2 separate regions of the Homo sapiens genome follow, and region 1 is linked to region 2. The links come from fine-mapping of genetic effects on gene expression. A gene starts in region 2. The other region holds a variant in brackets. All regions are shown on one strand. Distances are between the middles of the regions.

What was found. PIP is the estimated chance that this variant, and not a neighbour inherited with it, causes the effect. A credible set is the group of variants that fine-mapping cannot tell apart.
Region 1: its variant is the best candidate, but not a certain one, in a credible set for the expression of KLHDC4 in CD8 T cells (CEDAR, PIP 0.88).

The regions. Positions count from the first base shown.
Region 1 is chr16:87,699,637-87,704,012 of GRCh38, reverse strand. It overlaps a transcript of KLHDC4 not described here. Among named protein-coding and RNA genes, the nearest start is that of KLHDC4, 64 kb to the left of the region's middle. RefSeq lists enhancers at 38-1,237, 1,273-1,522, 2,253-2,302 and a silencer at 1,643-1,702. The variant C/T (reference allele first, on the strand shown) is at 2,092.
Region 2 is chr16:87,764,463-87,768,795 of GRCh38, reverse strand. It overlaps KLHDC4 (kelch domain containing 4), which reads left to right and starts at 2,810. Exons shown (of 12, transcript NM_017566.4): 1 at 2,810-3,004. The coding sequence starts at 2,906. It overlaps LOC105371399 (a long non-coding RNA gene), which reads right to left and starts at 2,755. Exons shown (of 3, transcript XR_933871.3): 1 at 2,455-2,755. LOC102724467 (a long non-coding RNA gene) reads left to right here. Exons shown (of 4, transcript NR_120309.1): 4 at 2,372-2,465. RefSeq lists enhancers at 2,715-2,774, 2,855-2,914, 2,898-3,522.

The DNA of each region.
Region 1 (4,376 bases), 65 kb after region 2:
ATGGAAGGAACTTGCTAGTGACCGCTGCTCTCCTGGGCAGTGTAAGAGTGTTGTGTGGAGGCCGGGGGCGCTGGAGGCCAGTCTCGTTTTCATAGCCCAGATGGCTCCCGGCGCAGGTTGCAGTCACCTCCATTACTCTTTCACGAGAGAGCTGCAGCAATGCCATCTGGGGCCTGGCCACACCTGGTCACTGGTGTCCCGAGGCACACAAGCAGTCCCTGCCGGAAGCTGACACACTGTCATGGCCAAGGGCCACAGTGCAGGTACCACGGTGACCCGGCTTCCCTGAGTCCAGCTCACGCCCGTTTTCCTTGTCTCAACCTTCAGAGCCCTTCCAAGCCCCCACTGGCTGCAGCCCACCCAGGGGACCCACCTTTAGAGGCTGGACTCAGGCTTCACTGAGGGGTGAGAAGCGCAGGTTTACAAAGCTCTGGCTGGGAAGAAATTGAGTAACCACTCCCTGAGAAACAAACGGAGACGTTTAATTACATGAACGCACACATTTTAAAAACCGCCTGTGCACTCCCGGAGGGCAGAGCCTGCCTCTCTGGTTATTTTTGTGTCCTCCATTCACTTACAGGCTGTGACAAACCCTGTGCCCACGCTGCCTCCACTGCCGGGAGACTCAGGGCTGGGGGAGACATGCCCTGGTCACCACTGCGGAGACTCAGGGCTGGGGGAGACATGCCCTGGCCACCAGTGGTGAGCCAGCGAGACAGGACCCCACGCGCGCTGACCCGGGGACGCCATGGAACTCACTCGCGATTCCTGCACGCGCGCTGACCCGGGGACGCCATGGAACTCACTCGCGATTCCTGCTCACAGCACGTTTCCTGCTCGAAAACCAGGAGAGCCTCCACGTGCCGACTAGCTCTGTCCACACATCCATTGCGCAGCTCTGCAGCGGAAGGACCTTCAGTAAAGACGCTGGTTTGTAACGAGAGAAGCGTTCCAAAGTGTCACACGACATTGTTTATTACTAAAAGGAGCAGAATTTCTTTTTAATCTTGACAGTGTTGTTTTCGTAACAGTATGATTTAAACTGTTACATTCATTTAGGAAAACTTTTTTTCATTTCATAAGTAATCAAGCTATCTTTCCAGCTTAAAAGCAAAGAAAAAAGGCTCAGGGTAACTTTTTAAACCACTTCATCAATAAGAAAAGTTCTCTCTGTCATTGCACGGCGTGATTGTACACAGTATTAGCAAGCAGTTCACATGCGCCAGGGCCGACTTGGAAGGAAACACAGGTTAACACTGTTTCCTGTCCGAGTTCACAGAGATGTTTGCAGCAGGCTCAGTTGCTTTGGCAGCTGGAGCGAGGGTGCCTCTTCCGCGTGGCTCCCCTGAGCAGAGAGGCCCCTGTGGTTTTTTTCTCCGCCGGGCTCTGGGGACAGGGTTTCTGTGGAAATGGCAAATGGTGCAGATGAGCAGAGTCCTGCTAGAGAGGTCAGCTCAGCGTCCAGGAGGGGGCGCCTGCCCCCGAGGAGGCCACGGACATGCCTGGGAAGTTGCTGCCGGAGAAGTGTGCTCTGATGTGGCTACATTTGGGGACGCGGGCTCCCCAGAGGCCCAAGCGAGAAAGCCGGGGGTTCCCAGGCTGGGGGTGCAGGACGGGCCAGGCACTGCCCTGCAGGGCCCGCCCCCCTGCCCCTGCACCCTCACACCCATCTTCCTCTCTCAGCCTGACCCCAGGGCCTGGGAGCCCCCGGCAGACCGGCCCTCCTTGCCAAACAGTGGCTGCCCTTTATGGACTCGGCGCCTGGCAGAGCCACTGTGGAGGAGGAGTTGGCTGTCATGGTCAGGGGAGGCAGCCCTTGGGTTGTCAAGGTTGGTGGTCAACGTTGAACCCATATCTGCTGGAATCTCCCGGTCTGTTCCACACACGATCATGCGGGAAGCTCTGGGACCCGAAGGCTGTTCTGATCTCGGGGGTCACAAGTTCTCACAGCAGCCTGGGGTCACCAGGGACCAGACCCGGCGTTAGCCTCTGTAAGGAGCTGCCTGGCTGCTGGGCTGAGCTTTGTTGCAGGCCCAGGAAGATGACCAAGAAGGACAGAGCAGAGCCCCATCTACCACTGCTGGGAGGGCC[C/T]GAGGGAGCACGTGCACAGCAGAGCCCCATCCTCCACTCCCTGGGCTCGAAGAGGCTTCCTCGGTGTGGATGGCAGCTGTTAACGAGCAGTGGTGGTGCAGCTGGAGGCCTCTGTCCCATGGGGCACAGACGGGAGAAGGATGGCGGACGGGTGTGCACGCTTGGGAGGACGGGCGGGCGGCATAGGCCTGAGCAGGTGGCATGGGCGCACGAGAAGGGTGTGTCTGAGACAGGATGTTTATCCCAAATGCCAGGAGTGGACGAGGCGGACGAGTGGCAGTGAGGTAGGCATGTGAGGTTGTTGCCTGGCCCACTCTGCCGACCCCAGAAACCCAGCGGCCTGGGCCCAGCACCCGGCTACACATGGGGTGAGCTCACGCCCACACTGTGGCCTGTGCCCGTCACGGGGCTGCTTGCTTCTCCTAGGCTTGGGAACAAGCTGGCATGAACGCTGTGGCCGCATTCACAGCTCAGGCACTTCCACTTTGGGTTTCATGAAGAAACAGACTTAAAGAGCATTTGTTCCTAATGGGTGGGCTGAAGCTTGGGAGGAGCATTCAGCTTCTCTCCACAGTATGGCTTCACCTGTTCCTGAGCGCCCTGCTACCCTCTTGCTAACCTGGGTGGCTGAGGTCCTCTGCTTTGGTGGCGTTGACTTCCCGTCTGCAGCCAGCGCCAGGTGCCAGCCCCCGCCTCTGCTCATCGGGAAGCGCTGGCCTGCAGGTGCTTTGTGGTTGCCACGGACCCTTGTTCTGTCCCTTTCCAGCACCCACCCCCCACGCGCTGTGCATTCCGTAGTTCATTTTCAAGGCAGGGGGCACATGGTGAAAATACAGCCTGGCTTTTTTTCAACAAATGCAGCTGCACTCTTCCTTGCTTGTTTTGAAGGCTGAGCCAGCAACCTCCTTGGCACCTGGGGACAGTCGCTTCCTCAGTTTCTGCGTACCGACTGCCTCACCTGACACGCGGCCTGGGCGCGAGAGAAGCCAACCAGGTGCCTGAGTTGACTGACTCCTTCCGCCCTCCAGCTTCCTCCCTCCGCCCTCCAACCTCCTCCCTCCACCCTCCAACCTCCTCCCTCCGCCCTCCAACCTCCTCCCTCTGCCCTGCAACCTCCTCCCCTCTGCCCTCCAACCTCCTCCCTCCGCCCTCCAATCTCCTCCCTCTGCCCTGCATCCTCCTCCCCTCCGCCCTCCAACCTCCTCCCTCCGCCCTCCAACCTCCTCCCTCCGCCCTCCAACCTCCTCCCTCCGCCCTCTGCCCTCCTCCCTCTGCCCTCCAGCGTTCTCCCTCCTCCCTCCACCCTGTTTCCTCCCTCCACCTCTTCTCTCCTCCCTCCACCCTCTTCCTTCTACCCTCTTCCCTCTGCCCTCTTCTTCTGCCCTCCTCCCTCCACCCTCTTTCCTCCCTCCTCCCTCCACCCTCTGCCCTCCTCCCTCTACCCCCTGCCCTCCTCCCTCCGCCTTATCTGGAATCGGGGTCTTGGTCCTGGGCTGGAGGCAGACCCTGGCCCGGGCGAGGTTAAAGGTACTGCAGGAGGGCGGCATCATGATGTCCTGAAGCTTGTTGCGCCCGGTGCTGTCGGCCGGCTGAAGGCAGAAACAGTCACAGCACCTGCAGCTATGGAAGGCGACGACTGAAAATCTAATAGGCACCTTGATGTCAAGTTTCCAAGACCAAAGGCAAGAACAGTCAGATCAAACTTCGGAAGAGTCAGAGAAAGTGAGCATGACCTAGAGGAGGGAGACGGTCCTTCCGCTGTCTCCTGCAGAGCGTCTGTCGCACGTATGAGGTGAAATCCGCACTGTCCCATGAAGACTGTGAGGGGAGTTGCCACCCGCACACGGCCCAGGAGCGCCAGCAGCTTGGGGACCACCACAGGCCTCAGGGTCTCTTCAGTCCGACGGGTCCAGCTGTCGATAAAACCTCCCGGGGAAGGAGTAAAGGACAACCAAGAACCTGAACTGCAAAAGTATGAAAAACATTTCATTTCCCTCGAGTTCTCCACACTTTAGGTCTGCAGCGCCTTGGGGGTGACTGATGGCCCTCCGTGAGACGCGGTGGCCATGTGCTTCTACAAGTGAAAAGGAGCAAGTGTGGTTAGAGCCTGGAGTATGGACGTCCCGGGGACCGCTGGCCCATGGCCTGGCTTGGGGCCTTACAGGGGAGCGAGCTGAGTGAATGCAGGGGAGGGCCCGTCTTTCTACAGTGTGTATCTTGTTTTTGAGACAGACTCACTCTGTCGTCCAGGCTGGAGTGCAGTGGCGCGATCTCTGCTCACTGCA
Region 2 (4,333 bases):
CTCCTTTCTGCTCAGCTCCTAACCGGTTTTTTTTTTCTACCACCACATAGGTTTCCTACAAGCAGTGCTGGAGACCATGGTGGTCTTCAACCAGTGCTATCTTTTCTTCTCATTATTTCCCCAAATTTCATTTTTCTTCTTAAAGAGCTAGGTTTATGGATAAGGCTTGGAGTGGGTTGGAAAATCATTCCTCCTCAGCTGCTCAGTGACTAGTCATTGATTGGATCTAAGGTAACTTTTTTTGTTTTTGAGACAGAGTTTCGCTTTTGCTGCCCAGGCTGGAGTGCAATGGCGTGATCTGGGCTCACCGCAACCTTTCCTCCCGGTTCAAGCAATTCTCCTACCTCAGCCTCCTGAGTAGCTGGGATTAAAGGTGCACACCACCACACCTGGCTAATTTTTTTGTATTTTTGTAGAGACGGGGTTTCACCATGTTGGCCAGGCTGGTTTTGAACTCCTGACCTCGTGATCTGCCCACCTTGGCCTCCCAAAGTGCTGGGATTACAGATGTGAGCCACTACGCCTGGCCGAGTTAACTTCTTCTTTTTTTTTTTTTTTTTGAGACGGAGTCTAGCTCTGTTGCCCAGGCTGGAGTGCAGTGGTTCAGTCTCGGCTCACTGCAACCTCTGTCTCCCAGGCTCAAGCCATTCTCCTGACTCAGCCTCCCGAGTAGCTGGGATTACAGGTGCGCACCACCATGCCTGTCTAATTTTGTATTTTTAGTGGAGATGGGGTTTCACCATGTTGATCAGGCTGGTCTCAAACTCCTGACCTCAGGTGATCTGCCTGCCTCTGCCTCTCAAAGTGCTAGGATTACAGGCGTGAGCCATCACACCTGGCTGGATCTAAGATAACATCTTTTTTTTTTTTTTTTTTTGAGATGGAGTCTTGCTTTGTCGCCCAGGCTGGAGTGCAGTGGTGCAATCTCCGCTCACTGCAACCTCTGCCGCCTAGGTTCAAATGATTCTTTTGCCTCAGCCTCCTGAATAGTTGGGACTACAGGTGGGTGCCACCACACCTGGCTAATTTTTTTTTTTTTTTTTGTATTTTTAGTGGAGACAGGGTTTCACCATATTGGCCAGGCTGGTCTTGAACTCCTGACCTCGTGATCAGCCCGCTTCAGCCTCCCAAAGTGCTGGGATTACAGGAATGAACCACCACGCCTGGCCTAAGAGAACTTTTAAAGGCTGACTCACACACAAAGTAATAAACTAGATTATTTCCTGATTTATGCTTTCCCTTTGCCAAATTTTGGCTTGTCCTTGTCCTTAATTTGCCTTATTCCTTGATTACCCATCCAAAGATGACATCTTCTAAGTAGTGATAAGCATTTTTACTCTGCTCTTTCAAATCATAACATTCCATGCACTGCAGATGATTTTGCCATTTCTTACGTAATTTGAGGCAAATCCTAGAGTACAATTTCCTAGCAGGCATTTGGATATTACCTATCTTTATTTCTCAGGCTCCACAAATTGAGTACCCTTTCAGGGTGCTATCATTAGCTCTAGCCTACCTATGAAGAAACAAAAGTCCTCCATGTTAGGACATTTGAGGACATGCCCTTAGTACCTAACAGTGTCTGGCACATTTTAAATGGGAAGGTGGAAGGGCCCCCCCATTTTTTTTTTTTTTTAAGATGGAATTTTGCTCTTTTGCCCAAGCTGGAGTGAAGTGGCTTGATCTCAGCTCATTGCAACCTCTGCCCCCTGGGTTCAAGCAATTCTCCTGCCTCAGCCTCCCAAGTAGCTGGGATTACAGGTGCCCACCACCACGCCTGGCTAATTTTTGTAGTTTTAGTAGAGACGGGGGTTTCACCATGTTGGCTAGGCTGGTCTCGAACTCCTGACCTCGTGATCCACTCACCTCGGCCTCCCAAAGTGCTGGGATTACAGGCGTGAGCCACCGCGCCCGGCAGGGACTGTCTTACTCAGGATCTGCAAAATCTTATAACTGTGTGAAATTTTTTTTCTGGGAAAAAAGCACTCATTTGTTTGGTCTGAGGGGAAAAAATGGGGCTAGCCCAAGAGTCGCCCACTTAGTTCTACCCAGGGCGAAGCAATGTGCCTTAACGGGGGGCACGTGCACCCCGGAAAACTCAAGAGAAAATGAGCCGGGCGTGGTGGGCTCCTGTGGTCCCAGCTACTCCAGAGGCGGAGGTTACAGCGAGCCGAGATCGCGCTACCGCACTCCAGCCTGGGCGACAGAGCAAGACCCTGCCTCAAAAAAATAGAAATAAAAAATAAAACTCAGAGGGCACGTCTCCTAGGACACGGGGACAGGCTAGGTGGGGGCACAGGGCGTGAGAATTGGCGAGCATGGCCGGGGTATGTCAGGCCGGGGCTGCCATCTTTTTTGTTTTTTGAAACAGGATCTCGCTCTGTCGCCCAGGTTGGGGTGCAGGGGCGCATTGCTGCCTGGAACTCCTTGACTCAAGCGATCTTCCCGCCTCACCTTCCCGAGGAGCTAGGACCACTGGGCGCGAGACACCACGCCCGGTTAATTTTTTTTTTTTTCTTCTGTAGCGACTGGGGGTGGGGGGTGGTGTCTCGCTTTGTTGCCCAGGCTGATCTCGAACTCCTGGACTCAAGCGATCCGCCCGCCAAGGCCTCCCAAAGCTCCAGGGTTACAGGCATGAGCCACCGCGCCCAGCCCGGGGCCGGTCATCTTTTCCGGGGCCTTATGCAGAGTCCGAGGCCCCCGAGCCCGCTGCCGAAGACGGAGCTCCAAGACCGAACCTCGTAAAGGGCCCAGCCGCACCTCTACCCGGAAGCGGCTCGAACTCGGGGCCGGAAGTGACTCCATTTCTGTGCGCCGAGCTCCGCCCCACGAGCACCTGTTTCCGAGCGGAGAGCGCGGGCCGTTTTCTTTCCTGGTGTCCCGTCGCGGCTTGGGACCCGGCAAGATGGGCAAGAAGGGCAAGAAGGAGAAGAAGGGCCGCGGCGCGGAGAAGACGGCCGCCAAGATGGAGAAGAAGGTGTCTAAGCGCTCGCGGAAGGAGGAGGTGAGCGGGTCAGACCGGGCTTAGCGGCCCGACGTCGCGGCCGTGCAGCCTCGGCCGACTCCCTGCGCCCCCCGGGGTTACGGGTCGGCCGTGGGAGCCGCGCCGGCCCTGCGGGAGAGCTGGAGGCCGTAGGAACTGCCCCGGCGCCGCGTCCGGGCAGCCCAGACGGGGCCCGCCCCCTCCTGAGTCTCCACGTGTGTCTGTCCGCTTCTCGGAGCTGCCCCCTTTAACGTGCTTGCTTTTCTTAGTGTGGTGTCACGGGCGTTTTTCTGCGTTTCCTCCCCCTCCTCCCTTCTCCCTCCACCCTCCCTCTGAAGGGAGGCTGGGTGGTGAGAAGAGGGAGGGGTTTGGCACAGGAAGACCTGAGGTTGAGCCGGGGGCTGCCTCTGCATGATGTGTGGTCTGGGAGTAAGACTCTTAACTTTTCTGAACCTTACTTTTCTTTCAAAAGAGGGCAAATAATCATCACAGCAGCCCTGAGCAGTGAGCAGCAGATGGTTAAGTGAAGAAGGCACTGGAGCCACGGGGTATCCCGTAGCAGCTGATGGCGGCCATCACGGTTGTCTCCTTCCCTCTGGTCCTCAGCCCGGGGTCTGCAGGAGGATCCGTCCTGACCTTGGGGTTGAGTGTTCTGCGGCTGCTGCTCATGGATTCCCTAACCGGGGCCAGTTTTATGGCCTGCCGTGCGCCAGGCACAGCTCCCTGGGCTTTACTCCTCACGAGCAGGTCAGTTCCGTAGCACTGGTATTCCCATTTGACAGGAAGACCAACAGGTGAACCATGAAGTGGTATGGAACTGGGATGTGACCAGATGTCCTGAATCAGGAGCTCTTGACCACAGTCCTTTGTCCCTTTTCTTCCTAAGTCATTGATCTCTCCATGTCCTCATCTCTTAAATAATGGAGTTGGACTTTTCCCTCACACTCCTCTTAGGCTCTTTCTTTTTTTTTTTTTTTTTTTTGACAGAGTCTTGCTCTGTCACCTAGGCTGGGCTGCAGTGGCATGACCTGCTGGCTAGGGTTGTGGCACAGGAAGTCAGTTCATCTGTGTGGTATCTTCAGAATGGTGCTTGGCAGAAAGTAAGCACTCAGTAACCAGCTGTTAGCTGCTTTCTGCTTTTTTTTTTTTTTTTTTTTTTTTTTTTTGAAGGAGTTTCACTCTTGTTGCCCAGGGTGGAGTGCAATGGTGCGATCTCAGCTCACTGCACCTCCGCCTCCCAGGTTCAAGTGGTTCTCCTGCCTCAGCCTCCCAAGTAGCTGAGATTACAGGCATGCACCACCACACCCAGCTAATTTTGTATTTTTAATAGAGACCGGGTTTCACCGTTTT